2 separate regions of the Homo sapiens genome follow, and region 2 is linked to region 1. Evidence: fine-mapped expression QTL. A gene starts in region 1. The other region holds a variant in brackets. All regions are shown on one strand. Distances are between the middles of the regions.

The links.
Region 2: its variant is fine-mapped to the expression of PACS2 in whole blood (TOPMed, PIP 0.96).

Annotation. Positions count from the first base shown.
Region 1 is chr14:105,313,023-105,317,392 of GRCh38, reverse strand. It overlaps PACS2 (phosphofurin acidic cluster sorting protein 2), which reads right to left and starts at 2,645. Exons shown (of 25, transcript NM_001100913.3): 1 at 2,356-2,645. The coding sequence starts at 2,474. It also overlaps a transcript of BRF1 not described here. RefSeq lists silencers at 2,024-2,103, 2,334-2,423, 2,564-3,093, 3,194-3,283 and an enhancer at 1,628-2,279.
Region 2 is chr14:105,200,328-105,204,697 of GRCh38, reverse strand. No RefSeq gene overlaps it. Among named protein-coding and RNA genes, the nearest start is that of NUDT14, 21 kb to the right of the region's middle. The variant G/T (reference allele first, on the strand shown) is at 1,661.

The sequences.
Region 1 (4,370 bases):
CTGAGTGCGTGCACACCCCCACCATAAATCCTGGTAGCTGGCGGTACATGCTTAAGACAGGCCCTGCCCATCCAGAAAGACACACGCAGAAGACTGGCACACGATGTCCACAGCAGCACGGGGCTTGTAATTAACCAAAAAACTGGAAACAAGCCAAGGTCCCTTGACAGAAGCAAAGCCGAGGTACTGTCACGCCAGTGAATAGTACGCAGCAGTGAACACGCCGAAAGGCATCAGCACACACGCAGCCCAGAAGCTTCATGGCTGGGCAAAAGTGAGGAGTACAGAAGAACTCAGGAGGAACAAAGCAAAACTAAGTAGCAGACTGTCCGAGGATGCACGGACAGGCGGCACAAGCACAAAGCAAAGCTAGGGGCAAGCCCGCCTATGAGGGGCCCTGTTCCAGGACAGGTAAGGGCAGGAGCTCATTATGAGGCTGAGCATGTCCTACGAACAAACTGCATCTGCCCACCTGGTCAGCTGCGCCACTCGCCCCTCCGCCCATTAACTCCTCCGCCCATTAACTCCACACCAACAGAACAAATCCTGTCCTCCTGCCTACCCTTCCTCCCAACCCTGTCCAGGCCAGAGCTCGGGACCCCCCCCAGCACTTAGTGCTACCCAGCCCAGGTGCCCCCATCTACCCCCGCCTGTCCTAACCAGGCTTCTCGAAACCCGCCCTACCCATACCCTCCCCACAGACACCAGAGTGGGCTTTCTAGACCCCTGGAGAATAGAGCACAGCTCCACAGGGGGGCTGATAAGGCCCCCGGCCCCTCCTGCCACACGCCCCCACCTCCCTTGGGTTAAAGACTTTGCTGCTCATTCGGAGGGCCCCAGGAAGCTGCTGCAGAGGTTCAGCAAGGGCAGGCTATGTGCTGCAGTGCTGGAGCAGGGGAGCGCCAACAGCCCGCATGAAGGTTCTGGGGCTGTGGGTGAGGCAGTGACTCAGAGGGGCAGACAGGAGAAGGGCTGTGGGGCTGTGGGACCTGACATTGGGGCAATCGCCAAGACCTGGAATGGAGAAGCAGCCAGGCCTGGGGAGATGCTCCTGGCTTTGGCTTTGAGGCCCCAGAGACTTCCCAGAAGAGAGGCAAGCAGGCACATCTGCAGTGCTCGGCCCCAGACCTTGGGCAAATGCTGACCCTTAGGTCTCATATGGACACTGGGTCCTTCGGGAGGCCCCGCCAGGTGCAAGAGTCGTGCCGGGTGGGCATCCTTCCTGTCCACTCAGCAAAACCAAAGCCCCGAGGTCCCAACCCTGCGCTCCAGGAGGGCAAGCCCCACTGTCCAGCGGCTCTGCAACTCCAACACCACGCTCAGAGATGCAGGCTGTGGGAGCCACAGGAAAGCACGGAGAGGCCCACCTGCAGCTGACTAGGGGTGGAACAACTCAATGCCACGTGGGGTCCCCTCCAGGCATACTGGCCACTTCCAGTGCCTGGAAGGTCCGCTCACCCTCCCATCTCCCCAGGGAGAACTCTCACTACCCCCAACCGCCTCCTCTTCTCGCCTGCTGTCTATTCTAGAACCAGAACTTTTCCGGAGAGCGTGTCTCTCTCCTCCTTAGCCTGGGAGCTTCCTGAGCAGGAACTACCAAGTCACGAAGAAATTACAAAAGTTTCAAACTGAGCAGGAGACTCAGGGAAGCTGCAAGTCCAAGGAAGGCTGGGCTATGGCCGGAGGGTAAACCCTGTCCAATCGTTACCGCTGGGCGACCGGGCGCCCCCCTACCAAGTGCAGAACAGCCAGTCTTCCGCAATGGCAAGATCAACTGGGAGGCGCAAATAGCAGTACTGGCTTGGCGACGCCTCTAAATGAGAGACAGCGCCAACCAGGTACCCGCGAGGACGACCCCGCCCCGCAGGACAGGGCATCTCCACCGCGCGCTGGACGGAGGATACAACCGAGTCCTGCGCGCCCCGTGCGCCGGGGGTCGCTCCCAGGCCGAGGTCTGACAGTGTCGCCGAACGCGAAAGGAAGCGTGTGGTACCCGAGAGAGGAAGCACCCTCGTCACCCCGGCCGGCACCGCATTGAGGCAGGTGTGCAGGTGCGGTTGCGGCGAGCCAGGTGAGCGCCGCCCGGGAGCCCCAAGGTCCCGCCGGGTCTGAGCAGCACCGGGTCCTCGGAAGCTGAGCGCGGCCCCCGGTGCTCGGGACCTGGGGGGCTGGGGCCGCGCTTGCCGGAGCTGCGGGGGGGCGGCGGCTGCACGCGTCGAACCGGCGGGCGGGGGCGCGGGGGGCGACCTGGGCTCCGCTGGGGGACCCGGGCCGGGGATGGGGCGCGCAGAGGCCGCGGCCAGGACACCCCCAGCAGGTGCCCGGCGGGAACAAAGCGCGGCGGGCGGCGCGTACCTGGGCACGCAGCTGGGGCTGGAGCCGTCCACCTCCCAGGTGGCGAACAGGTTCATGGGCACGGGCGTGTTGAGCGCGCCGGGCGCGCCGGGGAGGCCGAGGCGGCCTCGCTCGGCCATGGCGCCGGCCCCGCCGCTCCCTCGGCGGCCTGGGGCTGCGGCCGGGCCGCGGACGCGCGGCGGGCGGGCCGGGCGCGCGGAGGGCGGCGGCGCGGTCACATGGCTGCCGGGCGGCGGAGGGGACGGGCCGGGCCCCGGCGTCGGACAGGCCCGCGGGCGGCGACGAGCTGCGGCCGCTCCGCCCCGCCCCGCCCGGCGCCCCGCCCGCGCCCCGCGCGCCCCCGGCCGCCCCGCGCGCGCCCGGCGCCCTCCGACCCGCGCCGGCGCCGCCGATTGGCTGGGCGGGGCGCCAGCTCGCCGCCTCGGGTCCAATCGCCGCCGGCGCAGCGCGCGCCGGAAGTGAGGTGCGCGCGCGCTTCCTCCGGCGGCGCCTCACGGGGCGTCCCCGCCCGCCGGTGCGCGAGAGCGCGCACTCACGCGCCTGCGCACAGACCCCGCCCGGGGCGCCCCGCCCCGCCCCCCGGGAGCCGCGGGCAAGGGCCGGGAGAGTCGTGGGGGTCCACCGGGTCCCGGCCAGCTTCAGGCGCCGCCCCCTAAGGAAAGCTCATCGTCGCCCTGGCGATGCCCACCTCCCCACGCGCGGATTCCCCGGCCTCGACACTTTCCCGCCTCCACCCCGCCATGCCCCGAGTCTCCCCGCCCCCCTGCCCTCGCCGCCCCTTGTCTCCTGCCGACCCCCGCTGGGTTGGCCCGGCTGTGCGGGCCCCGCCCGTCCCCGAGCCCCTCCCTCGCGCCCCCCTGCGTGGGTTCCCCGGGACGCAGGGAGGTGGCAAGGAGGTGGCCGGGCCTGGCGGCGGTCGCGGGGACTCGAAGCCACTCGGGGCGCCAGGCTGCCGAGCTTAGCCTCCAGGGCTCCAGATGACCCCGGGCGCCCTCTTTGCGTCCCAGCATCCTTATTCAGCGCCGCTTTTCAGCGTTGTGCTCAGGACAATGGAGAACAAATGTCTGGGGCCAAGGCTGGCTCCTGGCCCTGGGGTTAACAGTGAACTTGGGGACCCAAGCAAAGAGGAGGCAATGGCTAGAGCCGCTGGGGCCCGACGTGTAGGCTCTGGGGCTCAGGGAGGGTGCTTCCCCCATCTGTTTGGCAGCGGCTGTGGTCCAGCACCAGATGCCAAGCCGAGATTTAGGAAACGGTTTTCTGGCCTCTCTTCTGTTTCCTTGTTTCACAGTTAGTTTACAGTTGCTTTTCTCTTCGCCCTGTGTCTTGTCTACAAGTAGTTTTACTGAAACAAATCCAGCCCGAGCAAATTGACCTGGAGCTGGTTTCTTTCCTGGCCCACGGGGCTTGCCACCCCAGTGCCCCGTCAGCTCCTTCTGCAAAGGCCCTCATGCCGCTGCTTCCTCCGTTGAGAGAGCTCAGCCTCCAGCTGTAACTCCTGTATCTAGAACTGCAAACAGCTGCGACTGCTTAAAGTCAGGGTCCCACTTCGGAGAGAACAAGGGACTCTGTGTTTCCCACGCGCCCCTGGCTCCTCTAAGGTGGTACACTGAGAGCCATGAGGGTCTGTCTGACCTTGGCCAGCTGCTCGGCGGGCAGAGGGCCGGTGGATCTCATACCTTTGAGACAGGGTAGGGGGAGAAGTGACTATGTCCAGAGAGGGGGTAGCCATACCCCAGGAGGACAGGCTGTCTGTGATGGGAGGGCAGGAGACAGGCACCCATTGACCCCAGAACTGAGCGTACGGCGCTGCTGGACCTGGCGAGCGTGCAGTTGCAGTCAGACGGATGGGCCGCCTGACACATGGTGCCTGTGTATGCCAGCGTCTAACCCAGGCAGGGACTACAACTGGGGGTCAAGTGAGGAGATGCGGGGTGACTAAGCCGTGCACAGCAGGGCTTGGCACCAGCTGCCACCATTGAGCGGTGCCCCTCCTCTGTGCCAGGCACCGTTGTGAG
Region 2 (4,370 bases), 110 kb after region 1:
TGTGCAGGCATGTGACCATCCACAGAGAAATGCATAATGCCCTTACGTACGTGTGCCTGTGCACACCTGTGAGTGCCCTTCCATGCACACCACACCCTCCTACATGGCCGCTATTCATGCACACCCAGTACGCGTGTACACGTACACACATTCATCCGCACACACGTCTGCTCGCACCCATCCCACCACCATGTGCACGGGCTTGAGCGTGTGTACCCAGACCCACACCTGGATGCACAGATGCTGAGGGCCGGGAGCCTCTGGACCAGCTCAGGGTGTCGGGCCCGGTTGGGGCAGACAACTGGCCGCAGTCCACACCCACATGGTGGCTGAGCCCTCGGACACTTGTGGGCCTGTGGGTGATCTTTCTAATTTTTAAATTTCTTTTTGAGATTGAGTCATGCTATGTTGCCCAGGCTGGCCTTAAATCCCTGGGCTCCAGCGATCCTCCTGCCTCGGCCCCCAGAGTAGCTGGAACTGCAGGTGTGAGCCACCGCACCTGGCTGGGGATGCTCATGGTAGTTTCTCCTCACAGGGGCACTGTGACAGGGCCCAGGAGTCACCAGGCCTGCCCCTGCAGCCACTCCCCACAGATGCAGCGGGGAGGGATGGTCTGGGGGCTTGTGTCTGGTAACTCCAGCACCTGATGGTCACCCAGCCCACACCAGTGCTGTGTGACCTGGCACCTGCTCCATCCCTCGGCCACAGAGTGGGGAGTGAGGTGAGCTTCCTGGCAGTTCGGGGAGTGAGGCAGCGCCAGGCTGGGTGAGCACTCCAGCGTGACCCCCCCACTGCCCAGGCCCCTGGAATAGGGGACAGCAGACAGTCCCAGGCTCCCCCAACCCCCAGGTGCCTTCTGTTGCCCACGTCTGCCCCTCTGCCAAACAGGCCCCTGGTCAGCCCAGCCAGGGTGGGTCAGGAATCCTGGGCCTGGGCTGAGCATTACTGGGGCAGCAAGGGACACCTGCAGGGTCTCTCACTGAATGAGAGGTTCTGCGAGGGCAGATGCCGGGCAGCCCCTGAGGATGCCCCCACCCCTCCCTCTGCCTCCTGCTCCCCATCCCCCACCCCTCCCTTCACCTCCCCCCCATCCCCTCCCTCCACCTCCCAGCCCCTCTTTCCACCGTCTGTCCCCCAGTGTCCTCCAAGACACTGACAGAAGCCCTCTTCTAGGCCTGCTGCTGCTCTCTGGTCCTGTTCCAGGTGGGGCAGGGGCTGCTGCATGAGGAGCTGCTGGGCCTGGGGCCAGAAATGGGGGCTCTTTTGTCACTGTCTAGAGTCTGAGTCTGCCACCAGGGACTGCCACCCGCTCCCCTGGTTTGAGGGAGTCGGGCAAAGGAGTGTGGAGCACGCCCTTCCCAGCCCCCACAGCTGGGTGATGGTGGGTGGGGGCCGCCCTGTGGTTCTCCCATGGAGCTTGGAGGTGGTAGCGAGACACAGCAGGCTGACGTGGACCCGCTGAGGGATGGGCACCCGGGATCCAGGCTCCTGCGGGACCGGCCTGCCCAGTGTGTCCGGGAGACTCGGCTGGCCCGCCCCCTGGCGGCCACGGGCGGCACCATCTGGAAGCGGACATTTATGTTCTTGGGACACTTGGCCTTTTCCCGGGTGATGAAGCCCACCTTGCACCCCATCTGGTGAATCCGGAGGCCACGAAGAT[G/T]CCTTTATGTTCTTAATTGTTGTATCAGGTCTTTGTTGAATCTTGGAGCCCTGCCTGGCTGGTGGCCCCCAACCCCACACAGCAAGGCCTTCTCGCCTTCCTCCTCGGTCCTTCCCTTTCAGGGTCTGAGGACCCCTTGGCCAAGACGGTGGAGACAGGCTCGGAGGAAAAGTAACCCTGAGCCTTGGGGGCTTCAGGAGATTACCTGCCCCTGCAGCATCCCAGTCCCTGTCCCAGTCCTGGCACCAGAGACCTTAGTGGGGCCCTGGACACACCCCAGGCCTGAACATCCCAGCCTCCTCTGCCTGGGGTCTAAGACCTTCACCAGCAAGGTGAACAGACGGCTGGAGGCCTCAGAGTGCAGAGCTCTGCCAGACCCACCTGCCACCTGTGACTCTAGAAAGCCCTCAATCCTGCCTTCCCCTGCAGGACTGGTCCCCAATTTCTGCATCTCCAGGGGCATCCCAGGACCATCTGGGGAAGCAGGGCATGCACACGCCCTGAGGCAGCCCCGCTTCGAGTCCCCTGTCTTGTGTGAGGACAGATGGCCCTTCTCAGGCCTTGAGTGCCAGGACCCTCTGCCCTCTCCAGCCTAGGTGCGCCTGCTCCAGGGCCAACACCCTCCAGGGTCCCTTGGCTGTCCGCCCCCACAGGGCTCAGCCACCCTGCAGATGTACCCTGGCCTCTTGGGAGGCACCGAGGGGGGTCGGTTGCCTCCGTCTCCAGCCTGTACGGAGTCCGGGCCCAGGACTCTGCGTCCTTCCAAGCTCTGATGCTGTGTTGAGCCCACTGCCTGCATGGTTCTGGCCGGCGGCTTCCTGGGCCGTCAGTAACTGTCCCTGCAGCCTGTACTACGTGTCTGGAGGACTGGCAGGTCCCTGGGGAGACCGGGGCCTGGGCTAGGCTGGTAAGAGGTGGCGCCGGGGGCAGGCCCCAAGGCTGCAGTCAGTGCCTGAGGCTGGCCCAGGCCCTTCAAAGGGGCCGTGGGCGGAGGCAAAGAGGAGGTTCTGTGTGGTTTTCCTGCCCGGAGAGGAACCTGGCTCAGGAAGCCATTGTCCCCACACAATGAGCACGGCTGGAACTGTGAAGTCAGGGGCGCTAGGCTGGGGGACCCAACCCTGACCTCAACCCGACTCTGTTCCATCACTGATGCCCCCAGGACTGACACCCCAGCTCACCCTGGACAGGGAGGAGCCACAGCTGGGGTCGGGGCACTCCTGAGCAGTCCGGGGGGCCTCGATTGGGGAAGTGCCCGCAGCTCAGGCCCGCTGACAGGCAGGGAGGGAGCGTTACATGTACCCACTTAACAGCAAAGCTGGGACCACAGAGGCCCAGGAGGCCCTAGCTGGACTGAGATTGGGATAGGAGGCCGGGCAGAAGGCCCAGTCACACCTGCCCAGGGGAGGCAGTGCCCACTCTGCCAGACGATGTGGGGACCCTCCTTTCCTTTGCGGCCGGGGGCCTCTGCACCAGCCCGACTGAGTCATTGCTGCCTCCCTGTGGACAATAACGTTGTCTGCCAGGTACCCGCCTTGGTGGAGCCTGGGAAAATGACCCCAGCCTAACCCGGCCGCCAGCACACCTCGGGGGCTGGCCCCCATGGCTCTGCTCCAGCCTTGACCACCCACCCATTGAGCTGAGTTGGCCGCTGTGGGGGTCCTGGGCGGCAGTGCAGGGCCGGACTGCAGGTGCCACAGAACCTGGCAGGTGGAGGCGGCACTGTGGGCTGAGGCTGAGCTAGGGTCAGCACCTGCAGGCCACAGCCTCGCCTGCCTGGGGTCCAGGAACACACATGCTGGGAGACATGTACCCAGCATGGAGACGATGTTCGAGCTTCTGTCTCTGTGCTCTGCCCCCGCGGCGCCCGGAGGATGGGGAGTGGCTGCCATCCCCACACAGCCCACCCTCCAGGCCTCACCCCTTCGGACTTCCCCTCCCACAAATCCCTGACCGGAGCATTCCCTCCAGCTGCACGTGGGGTTCTGGAAAATGCGTGTTTCTCATGCATTTGTTCATGGATTCACTCAGCAAGCGTGGAGAAAGCCTGACAGCCAAGTGCGTGCGCAGAGTCGGCGAGGATGAAGCAGGGAACCGGGAAGTGCTGCCCACAGGCCAGCGCCCCTGTCCTTGTAGGGGAGATGCGCTTCGAGCCACCCCCTCCCCAACAAGATCCATAGGCACAAGTTTGTGCAGGGAAATCAGGGCGTGAGGCGCAGCGGCCGGCCGGCAGAGGAGAAGTGGTCTTGCCAGCTGCTGGAGGGTGGGCTGTGGGGCTGTGAGCAGAGCGCATGCTTAGTTCCATTTTGGAGCACTCTGGGGAGGGGATGGAGAAGGGCCCAGAGGATGGGGGTGTCCCTGGGTGGGGCCGGGAGGTGGGTGGAGGAGGAGATGAGACTGGCTCCCTGGTGAAGGTCTCAGCAGGGATTTGTTATTAGGGGAGGGGGACAGCGGAAAGGAGTAGGTTCAGGTGGGGCCAAATTTAGGGGCCTGTAATGTGTGGAGGGCCTGGGGCTGGAAGAGCCTGGGATGATGTGATCCTGGGAGGTGAAAATCAGGGCTCAGCAGCCTGCTGGTGGCCTTGGAGGGCCCTGGGCACGCTCTTGGGCTGGTGTGTCCCGGCCTGGCTCCCGGGGAGGTTGCTATTCAGAGACAGTATTTCCCAGCCCACCAAGGGGAGGGGTGTGGTGGTCACATGGCCACTGGGGGACAG